3 linked regions of the Homo sapiens genome follow. The protein of the gene in region 1 purifies or fractionates together with the protein of each later gene. This does not show direct contact. Each region holds a gene or a part of one and is shown on either strand. Other genes may lie near its edges. The genes, in order: SIAE, CNTNAP3 and NPTX1.

The links.
Region 2: the proteins of SIAE (region 1) and CNTNAP3 purify together in Homo sapiens (affinity purification with mass spectrometry; 2 studies listed by BioGRID and IntAct, with this or other methods). This does not show direct contact.
Region 3: the proteins of SIAE (region 1) and NPTX1 purify together in Homo sapiens (affinity purification with mass spectrometry; 3 studies listed by BioGRID and IntAct, with this or other methods). This does not show direct contact.

What each region holds. Positions count from the first base shown.
Region 1 is NC_000011.10:124,638,993-124,642,741, reverse strand, and holds part of SIAE (sialate O-acetylesterase isoform 1 precursor), read left to right. Parts: intron 1-2,874; coding exon 2,875-3,032; intron 3,033-3,749. UniProt on the Homo sapiens protein: Catalyzes the removal of O-acetyl ester groups from position 9 of the free diacetylated sialate N-acetyl-9-O-acetylneuraminate (Neu5,9Ac2) in the cytosol and of the diacetylated sialate residues of sialylglycoconjugates in the lysosomes.
Region 2 is NC_000009.12:39,281,446-39,285,194, reverse strand, and holds part of CNTNAP3 (contactin-associated protein-like 3 isoform 1 precursor), read left to right. Parts: intron 1-3,749.
Region 3 is NC_000017.11:80,475,136-80,478,884, forward strand, and holds the start of NPTX1 (neuronal pentraxin-1 precursor), read right to left. Parts: upstream 1,473-3,749; 5' UTR 1,312-1,472; coding exon 868-1,311; intron 584-867; coding exon 376-583; intron 1-375. UniProt on the Homo sapiens protein: May be involved in mediating uptake of synaptic material during synapse remodeling or in mediating the synaptic clustering of AMPA glutamate receptors at a subset of excitatory synapses.

The sequences.
Region 1 (3,749 bases):
CACTTTTGCCATATACAACATAATCACAGGAGTGATATCCCATTACCTTTGCCATAGCCTATTGGTTAGAATCAAATTACGAGTTCCCCCTACCACAAAGAGGAGAGTATTGTATAAGGATGCGGCTCCCTGTGGGTCATCCGCCTAACATACCCAGATATCCTCATAGCTTCTTTGCGCATCTCCTTCTAGTCTTCATTCAACTCTGACACTCTCTCCTCCTTCCCTATTATATTTTTCTCCAGTGCACTTGTCACTTTCTCATAGGATATGTAGTTTACAGATCTATCTTGTTATTCATTCTCTCTTTCCACTAGGGTATAAGAATGGGAAGGGATTCTTGTGTTTTGTTCACTGCTCTATCTCCTAGGCCAGTATTAGTGCATGACACAGAGTAGGTGCTCAGTAAATATTTGTTAAAAGCATGAATAAATACATGAGCTGACTGATAATACATGAGCTGTGGATCCTTCACAGGCTCTTTCTGGAACAATATTATTCCCCAAATATTCTGGTGCTACTTGGATGCCTGAGATGCCACACAGTTAATTCAGATGCCGTGGCTTCCGAATGATGGATTTTACCCTTCCTCTTGTTCTCCATATCCAGTTGGTTGCCTGGTTTTGTCAGTTTTTATTATTTCTCATCATCCCGTTCTACTACTATCTCTGTAGATTAGATCTTTGTTTTTGTGTCTAGAATATTATAATAGCTGCTTAACTAATCTGTCTCTCTGCGTTAAGTCCTTTATTTTGGTTTCTTTTTTTTTTTTTTTTTTTTTTGAGATGGAGTCTTGCCCGGTTGCCCAGGCTGGAGTGCAGTGGCACAATCTTGGCTCACTGCAACCTCCGCCTCCTGGGTTCAAGTGATTCTCCTGCCTCAGCCTCCCGAGTAGCTGGGATTACAGGCATCTGCAACCACTCCCGGCTAATTTTTTGTATTGTTAGTAGAGAAGGGGTTTCATCATTTTGGCCAGGCTGGTCTTGAACTCCTGACCTCAGGTGATCCACCCACCTCGGCCTCCCAAAATGCTGGGATTATAAGCGTGAGCCACCATGCCCGGCCTTATTTTGTTTTTTGCCAGAGCCATTTGTATGATCACTAGAACAATCTTTTGAAATGGTCCTTTGATCATGTCAGTAATTTCAGTGGCTCTGTAATTTCTTAATTGAGGTGAAAGTCATATAACATGCAATTGAGTTCAGTAGCACGTTAGCACATTCACGATGTCGTGCAGCTATCACCTCTACAGAGGTTCTTTATTGTTTAATACAAAAGAATCAACTATACAAACACTTGCCTTGCTATCTTTCCAACTTTGCCTTTCCTTCACAAATCCTCCAGTCCACCTGGATTGCCCCTCTCTCAGAACGACCATTCTCCTCCCCACCTTTGCATCTTACATGCTTCTAACATGTGAAGTGTGAGCAGTACTGCCTGTAGTGACTTCTCATATTTTTGATGCCCATTTGTTTTAATGAATTCTGAGACCACGTTTTCCTATAATAATAATCTTTGCCTGTTCTAAATGTTTAGTACTTGCTGTCTGTGGCACTCATTTAACATTTAATCCATACTATTTTATATGTTTATGAAACATAAACCCATTCAATCCTTATGTTTATTTCTTATGTGTAGGTCTGTCCTCCTCAACAAAGCTGTAAAGTACTTGTACCAGTTAGCTACTGCTGTGTAACAAACTACCTCAAAACCCCCGGCCTAAAATAGCCTTTCTTATATAGGTAGCTCTTGTCTGGGGAGCTGGGGTTTGGGTGATTTGGCTAAGCTGCAGATCTTTGGGCTCTTTCAGACCTCTGTGGGTCAGCAGGGGCGCTCTTGTCCTTCTCCAGGGAGCAGCAGGCTAGCCCAGGCACGTCCTTCTTATGGCGATAGCAGCAGTGCAAATGAGCAAGTGGAGCCATGCAGAGTCACTTAGGCTAGGAAGTGACACACCATACTTTCTGCTTCTGTTGATTGGTCAAAGCAAACCACATGGCTGAGCTTAGAATCAAGGGTTTGGGAAACATACTTGTCCTGTTAACGGGAGGAACTGCAAATCCACATGGCAAGAGGGTGTGGATATAGGAGGGAGTGAAGAATTGGGGTCACTGATGCAATTTAGCACATGCTCAAGGGCAGATTCTTCTCTGCTTGCCTACAGTGCCTAGCCCTGTGTTGTATACAGATGTATCAGTTATCTATTGCTTTGTAACAAGCTACCCCAAAACTTAGGGGCTTAAACCATCAGCCATATTTTTTGCTCATGATTCATTGGGTTGGCCAGGTAGGGCTCACCTGGGATGGCTCATTTCTGCCCTACATGATACCAGCTAGGCTTGCTTATGTGGCTGCAATTTTAACTGGAGGATCTAGAAATCCATATGACTGGCCCTTATCTGTGATTGCTGGAACACTAGAGCCTCTCTTTCTATGATCTTTCAATTTCCAAGGCCCCTCTCACTCCATAATCTCTCCAGCAGGGTAACTGGATGGTGTTTACATGACCAGCTCAGGGTTTCAAGAGAATGAATTCAGAAGGCAAGGCCTCATAAGGCCAAGACTCAGGAGCTGTACAACATCAATTCTCCTGCATTCTATGGGTCAAAGCAAATCCTAGATTCAAAGGGAAGAGAAACAGACCCCGCTGCTTGATGAGAGGTGTGGCAAAGTTGCACTGCAAGAGGGCACATGGGATGAGAGGGACTGTTGCAGCTGTCTTTGGAGAGACACTGCCACAACAGTAAGAAGCTCAGTAAATACGTGTTGAATGAGCATTTAAATGCAATGAGAGAAGCAGAAGCAGAGTCTGCCAGTGAAAAAGACTCCAGTGTGGGATTCTGATACAATAAAATTAGCAATGTCTCTGCTTTCTAGTTATCTTCAGATTTGTCTAAGAAGAGCTCAGACGATGGATTTCCCCAGATCCGTTGGCATCAAACAGCAGACTTCGGCTATGTCCCCAACCCAAAGATGCCCAATACTTTCATGGCTGTAGCTATGGATCTCTGTGATAGAGACTCGCCTTTTGGCAGGTATGATTGCTTCTTGGGCTTTGCATGAACAGTGTATGTTCTTTGTAGTCTTTCACTCTGATGTTCACCGGTGAGGGGCAATTAGACTGAGGATTGGCACTTAAGAGTCACGTATGCTGGGGTGTGCTGCAGTAACAACAGCAAACACCCTCAACATCTCAGTTCTCTGATGCACCAACAATTTATTTCTTGGTCACTCTCTCTGTTAAAAGAAGGTCAACAGAGACTTTGCTCACTGTAATCATTCATAGACCCAGAGCAATAGAGGCTCCAAGTTGACCTATGCTTCCATAGTCATCTTAAAGTGTCACACTGGCAATTCAGTGCTTCCACACAAGTCATTTCTGCTCACATTGCACTGGCCAAACCAAGTCATAAGGCTACGGTTAACTTCAGTGGCAGCAGGAAATGGAATTCCAGCATTCCTCTGGCCTCACAGGAGGAATACTGAGATACCTGTGATCAGCCCCAGGGAACACCACACACTAACTGTAGGATGTGAGGGGATTCCACATAGGAAACAGAGTCCAACACACAGTGTCTGGATTATAGGAGGAACTTGATTGATTTATTGAATAAATGAATAAAAGCTCTAGGGGACCAAATAATGAATCAGCTGATTCCAAAGAAACCTGACTTTTAGTGGTTAGGAACAATCTTATGAGTTAGCTCTCTTAGGTTAGTTCTGGTATCTTTCCTTCTTCCATGTCTCCCTCC
Region 2 (3,749 bases), on another chromosome or scaffold:
GTTAATTTATTCATTACTTAGCCTAAAACACTTTTAATTTTAATTGCCTCAATTTTTTCCCCTAAATGGTTATGTTTTGCAAGTTCGCCAGCCAGCCTGGGGAAAGAAGGGTAAGCCTACTATAGAGTGTGTGTGGGTTAGTTAGGAAACTCACTTAGATGTGAAATGTGTCAGGAAAGAGATCTCACAGAGTGTAGGAATAATTATTTTTACAGATGTTTCATTTTGGACCTTTTAGTAATACCATTTAAAGAGAGATTCTGCAGATGAGTAACAGACTCTTAATTTTAGTGTCAAATGGTACTCTATAAAAAATGGAGTTCAGGCCAGGCGCGGTGGCTCACACCTGTAATCCCAGCACTTTGGGAGGCTGAGGTGGGTGGATCAGTTGAGGTCGGGAGTTCGAAACCAGGCTGGACAACACGGTGAAACCCCGTCTCTACTAAAAATATGAAAAAATTTCAGGGCATGGTGGCAGGTGCCTGTGAGGAGGCAGTGAGCTGAGATCGTGCCACTGCACTCCAGCCTGGGTGACAGAGTGAGACTCTGTCTCAAAAAAAAAACCAAAAAATGTAGTTCAGTTGCCTTTATTCATTTTCACCAAACTCTATACAAACAGTACGGAGCATAAGTAGCCCATGGAAGTGATAATCAATTCCAAGACATTGGTTTGATCATGAAAAAAGAAAAATCAAATTACTTGGCGTTCTTCTTCCTCTTCCTCTCCCCTTCTCTTTTTGAACAATTCAGTCCAAGGTCATTCAGTTCAGCTTAGGCATCCATGCTGGGTAGTGGGGAGGCCCAGGACCGTGGCAGAGCATTCAGAAACCAGCAGGGTAAGGAAAGCATCCACAGTGTAGCAAGGGTGGGGACCTGGAGAGACAGGAGACAGCACTGGTGGTGACCTATAGCAAGTTGTCAGAGGTTGAGTGGAGTGAGGAAGGAGGCATTCCAGATTGACGGAGGCTAAGAAAACAAGGCAACTAAATACTACTCTGCATTAAATGCTTATGTTATAAAGGACATGATTGGGAATTGGTGCAACTTGAACAAGATTGGGGATTAAATATTGGAACTTTATCCATGATGACTGGGATGATCATATTATGGTTATATAGGAGAACATCTTTGTTGTAGGAAATGTACATTGAAGTATTCAGGGGTGATACAGCATATTAGCGTAGTTCTTCCATGTTTTCTGTAAATTGGTTTCAAAATCAAATGGTTACTTTAAAAAACCATTCAAAATTGTGTTTAAAGGAAACATGGACCAATAGAAAAACTCAGAATAAGTAAATGTAGTTAAATTGATGCATTTTACCTAAGAGATGTAGATTAAAAATAAAGAGGCTGAAAAAAAAACAGTTATGAGAAATAACAGTTCATTTATGTATGTCTCTAAATCAAATTAGCCTGGATTTCTGAATGACAAAGATGTGATTGGCACTGGGATTGTTCCCCATTCTTTTCGGGAAGTTTATTGCCTAGGACATCTGTATCAGTCTTCAAAGTACTTTTTAAAGCTTGAATATCTGAATGAACCCGTCAGACTGACTGTTATCTGGTCTTCTGTAATGGGCTTCCGCACCTTTGACGAGACTCTTAGCTGAAAGGTTGCTTGTCCCTAGGCCCGGTTGCTCCACGTTGTAAGAGCATTTGCAAACGCTTGGTTGTACATGATTGTGCACATGTCAAGTCTGCTCTGTCACTGTAGAAAAAATATTCCTTTTCACTTGACATATAAAGCATGGAATTGTTTGTTTTAAATGTCTTTTGTCAAGGATTTCATATATCTGCTTGATGTGTTGTACTGTATAAAAGACAAGTGTGAAATTCATTGCTTACTATGATAGCCTTAACAGGACTACAGTAAATCTAGTTTTCTAAAAAATGGAGTATATGCTTAGCTTGGTTAAAATTTTATAATGAAATGACTACTCTGGTAATAAAAATTAAAAAATATCATAAAGTGGGGGCTAAAAAATGATACTGCATGTGTTCCAGTTAATGAACATTTTTGTTGTAATAATACGAAGAGTGATTGAAATCTAAAAACATTTGAGATTTTAAAATAGTTTTAACCTTATAACTACAGGATTGTAATTTAAGTAGCATACCTACTTAATAAGGCAGCAATTAAAATTATTGCTAAGAATTAAATTACCAAGAAGACATGGTCTAGTATGTATTGCCTGGGCTGTGGTTTGAATTACTTTTGATTAAGTATAATCACATTTTTTGAGAGTATAAAAACAGAGGATATTACTTGCTTCTAATTCACAGATGTGTTTATGAACCATTGGCAATTAAAGCATTTGCAATTGAGGCCCTAAGAAAATTTTAGGTTAAAATAACATGTTGAGTTATGCCTTATAACTCAGTATATGCTTATACTTTATATGCTTTACGGAGTTTTGAATATATAATATATATATATAATAGTATATTTTTCCAGGAAATATATAACTTGTAGTTCCTTGACTTATTTTGTAACTAAATCCCATGGAAAAAAGTTTATTGAATGTCATTGTTTCTCAGGCAAATGTAGAGTTAGGAAAATGATATATATACATATTGGGAATCTTTTAGAAGGCTTGGACTTGGTAGCTCAAATCTTCTACAACCTTGAGCTTCAACTTTCTGGCCGGTTCAAGAGATCTCTTCACTGTCCTTTTCATGTAAAGTCAATGTTTATGGAACACTAGACCAAAATGGAAGGATTCCTTTGGAAACTGAACAAACAGTTGAATTAGTCTTTGACTTGATGGAGTGATTTGATCTAAAATATTACCTAACCGTTTTAGATATCTGTTCAATCAGAGCTGCCTCCATATACGCAAATGATAATTTGTCTTGGATTTTTAGATATCTTAGCCCTCAGACAAGCTAATAGAGTTTAAATTGAACCTGGTGTTTTAGGGACAGTTGAATTGTTGGGATGCCCAGGAAAACAGTCACATTTTTCTATAAGTATGTGTTTATTTGGCTGGAATGTGGGTGAGGAAGAAGTTATATGTGAATTAAAAGAAACATTGTCTCAATGTCACATGTTAAATTAAATTAAATTACAGGCAGAACTAAGCGAGTTTACGATTGCTGCCGCTGGGAGCAGAGACTATTTTCAGCTTACATTTATAACAGAAGGAGGGATTTAAAATATAGTATTATGCCTACCCTGATACAGCTAACCTCCTCCACCCGCCCCTCCACACACATACAGCTACATGCTTACCCTCGAACTATGAAAGAAGGGTGTCTCTCAGGCATCCTATATTTAACCCAGCTTTGGACACGTCCCTGGAGTCTAGTCTTTTTGAACACAGCAGTGAAGATAAGGAATGGGGAGGGGGCTTTGATTTCAAGACCACTAGATATAGTAGATTCCTAATTTAATTTCAAAGACAAATCAATTATTAACACAAATACAAAGAGAACAGTATTTTAAGCAAAGCTTCTGTTGTGGCAGATAACCTTTTAAGGTGTCTCCCAGTTGGGTTTCTATTTTAGATGACTTTTTGAAGAATATATCTCTGTAATAGAAATATGTTTGATGATTCTCATCTTTAAGAACTTCACATTTGCTATAATTAAGATATTTATGAATTTATTGTAAGAAGATTGGTAGAAAAAGTAATGCAACATCAAATGGGAAAATAAATATATAATATTATATAGCTGTTCAAATATAGGGTTTATGATTCTTGAGCTAATTTGAACTGCTGTACAACACCAGGAGAAAAGTCCACAGC
Region 3 (3,749 bases), on another chromosome or scaffold:
GGAGAGACAGGCTTTCTTAAGCAGGGAGGGTTTGAGCCAGCGACAGCCACTGTGCAAAGTTACTGAGGATTAAACAAATCAGACTTGAAAAATCCAGCGAGTGTGTGAGTGTGTCTGGATGGGGGAGGGGGCACTATGCAATCCCCTTTCCCAGAGACAGCCCCAGCCCAAGGCACCCAGCCCTGATAGAAACACCGACTAGAAGCCCAGAACCTGGGAAGGGGTGCGGGGAATGAGAAAGCGGTGCAGGGGTTGGGGGTAGCGGAGCGGCTTGAGGCTTGCACAGTGCAGAGCTGGGCTGTTAGGGATCGGGACCGAGGCAGGGTCGGGCAAGCAGGTGCAGGCAGGCAGCACGGCTCCCCCTGGCCCCAGTACCTTTCTCGAGCTCGCTGATCCGCTGGTGCAGGGAGGTCAGGGCGGTCTCGATCTTGACCCTCTCCTCGGTGTCGTTCCTGGGGCCCCCCTTGCCCTCCTCCAGGGTGTTCACCCGGGACAGCACCTGCCTCTCCAGCTCATCGATCTTGCTCTGCAGCAGATCCTTGAGGCTGTTGGTCTGGCTGGAGGAATTGAGGCGGCTGTACTGCTGCGGGGTGCAAGGGCGGGGGAAACCACACCGTTAGGCGAGGCGCGGGGACCGTGCTGGAAGGCCCGCGGCGCGGTCCCCTCTGGGCGACTGCGGGGGCGGCCTGGCAGGGAGCTGGGGCGAGTGGCCGCCGCGGGGCCTCGCAGGCGCGGGGAGGCACCGGCCGGGCACCCGCGCGGCTGAGGCGAGGGCGGGGGATGCCTGGCCGGGTAGGGAACGGGGTGGGGGAGGGCAGAGGGGCGAGCGAGCCGGAGGGGGAACCGGAGCCGAGGGCGCGCGCGGACCTCGAGGTTCTCCAGGCGGGTTTTGAGCGATTGCAAAGTTTGCCCGAGTTGGCTGAGCGTCTCGGCGGCCGGTGTCCGGGACAGGTCGCCCATGGTGTTCTTGCCCGAGCCGGGCTGCTTGCGGCCGCCGCCCGCCCGGGCCTCGCCGGCTCCGGGGTCCAGCGTGCTCTGGCTCTCGCAGCGGCCCAGCTTGGCGGTCAGCTCGCGGATGGTCTCCTTCTGGCTCAGGATGGTCTCCTTCTGCTGCAGCACCGTCTCGCGGAGCTGCAGCACGCTGCTCCGGAGCTCCTCGGCGCCGCCGGCGGCCACGGACGCGGCGCACATGTCGGCGTCCACGGGCACCGAGGTGCAGATGAAGCGCGTCGGCCCGAAATCCTGGGCCCCGGCGCCCAGGAGGCAGAGGGCGAGCAGCGCACAGGTGCGCGCGGCGCGGCCGGCCGGCATGGCTGCGGGCACCGGGCGCTCCGGGCCCGGCTCGGCTCGGCTGGGGCTCGGCTCCGGCTGGGACCCGGCTCGGGCTGTGGCTCCGCGAGCGGCCCGCGCTCTGGGCGCCGCGCTCTTCGGCCGCGCGGTCCACACCGCCGCGCTATCAGGCCCCCACTGCCGCCTGCGCTGCGGAGCCCGCGCCTTTTATGCCGCCGCGGGAGGGGCCTCGAGCCGCCGACGTCAGCGGGGGAGGAATCCCGCTTTAATTGTCCGCGGCCCGGGCCCGCGGCGCGGCGGGGGTCTCACGAGCGCGCCACCGGGGCTGCCTCCGCTCGCGTCCCCCCCGCCCTTCTGGGAGCTGCCGCGGCCCCCTCCTCCCCCGCCCCCGCCTGGGCCGGCGCTGCTGCCCCGAAGGCTCCGAGAGCTCAGGGGGAAGGAAGTCGGGCTCCGGCCCCGGACTCGAGGATGGACCACCTGCGTGGTGTCCCCGAACCTCCGACGGGGCTCCAGGCGGGCGGGAAACCACCGCGTCCGGGAGATAGAATTCGGTTCGGCCCTCCTGGCTGCACTGAACACCCTTGGGCCGGGGTCGTTTGGAGCCGGGCTGGGTGCCCAAGGACCCAGGTCGTCAACACCCGAGTGCCCGGTGGTCAACGGCTCGGAGTGGGGCCTCGCGGCGCCACTAAGTCCAGAGCGGGGGTCACCGGGCCGCCCCGCGTTTCTTAGATGTCCGTGTGCTATTGAGAAGCCGCCGGGCAGCCTGGGTACAGGGACTTCCCACGGGTCGGGGCCCCCGGCGCCTCCCCTCCCCCAGCTCCCGGGCTCTGTGGACCCGGCCCCGTCCCCGGGGGACTGTCAGTCCCCACCCCGTGCGGGCGGGGCGCTGGGGACTTCTCGGAGGCAGACCTAGCTGATCGAGCCTTTCCTGTCCGCGGCGCCGGCCCGATCGCGGGCAGGCGGCGTCGCCGGGGCTGGACGTTCGCAGCGGCGCTTCGGAAGGGGGCCCCGCGGGAGCAGCCGCCCGCGTCTCCAGCAGCTTCCCCTTGCCAGGCGCCGCGCGCGCCCGGTATCCCCGGGTGTCCACCTGTGCGTGGGGGGCTGTTTCCCGTCTGTCCAGCCGCGCCCACTTCTCAGGCCCAAAGGCCAGCAGGAAGGGTCCCGGAGGTGGCTGGGGGCGTCCACCTGAGAAGCTCCGCTCTCGCTCAGACACCCCACCCGGCACCCGCGCACTCGCGCCTTCATCTGGACCGCGGGGCTCGGCTCCCGAGATCGCGGTCCGGGTTCCGGCGCCGGGCTGGGGGCTCAGGACCAGGGCTGGCGCAGCCGCCCCGCCCCGCCCCGCCCCGGGGCTATCAGAGCGGTCAAAGCCTCGGAAATCCCTCCGTCCACGCTCCCGTGGTACAGAGAAGGAAACTGAGGCTCCGAGACTGCGGGGCCGGGCTACAGCCGTGGCCCCCCGACCCCTCCCCGCCGCCCCCGGCTTCTCTGGTCTCTGCGTTCTGCAGCCTTTCCCTGCGCGCAGCCGGGGGCTGGGGGTCCCCAGCCAGCAGGGACCCACGGGCAGTCCCGGGTGCCGGGATCGGGCGTCCGCCCCTCGGGCGGGAGCAGAGGCCGGCTCGATGGAGACCTTTTTGAGAAATGGCGGCCTCTACCCGCCCCCCAGCCCCCGAGCGCCCGCCGTCTGCGTTCAGCATCTCAGCTTTTAAGCCTCCCTGAGCCGGGGCTGCGTTCTCGTTGTCTCCTTCGGCCGCCGCTTCCTGGCGCCAGAGGGACCCCGCGGCCCGCACGGGCCTGTCCTCGGCTCCGCTCGGAGGGTGTGCGGGTTCCCGCTCCGCTGGCCCCGCTTGCCCACCACGGCGCGCCCAAACCCACGCGGCCCGCGGCCCCTTGCGTGCTCTGCCGACCCCGGGCCGCAGGAGGGGTTAGCCTCGCCGGTCCCCACGCGGGGTCTGCGCCGGCAGCGCCACGGGCTGGAACGCGCCTCGGGAGAAATTACCCGCGCGGGGTCGCGGCGTCTTCTGCCCCAACTCCCGTAGGGAGCCGCTAGGCGGGTGCCCTCCTGGCCCCAGCGCTTTGGCCTCGCCGCCCTCCCGCACGCGTCCAGTGGGGAGGCCGCGCCCGTCAGGCCTGGAGCCGGACCGTGCCCAGCCGAGAGCGCGCGGGCGCGGGAGAGGAGCCCTGCCCTGCCCAGGGCAGGCTGTTTAGACGGGGCGGGAACCCTTAGCCTGGCCCCGCGTCTCTATCCCCAGCAGCCGTGGAGCCTTCCTAGCCGCCCAAGGCCAGGGACCCTGCCTGGCTTTTCCTCCAGGGCAGCAGATCTCAGCGGCCTGGCACCTCGGCACAGAGGAGCGTGTCCCCCTTCCGCAGAGGAAGGGAGTGGACGGCGTCAGAAAGGGAGGGGAGCCTGGGGCGGTGTCTGGGGCTAGCGGGACCTCTGGGCACTGTGGGGCCCCAGG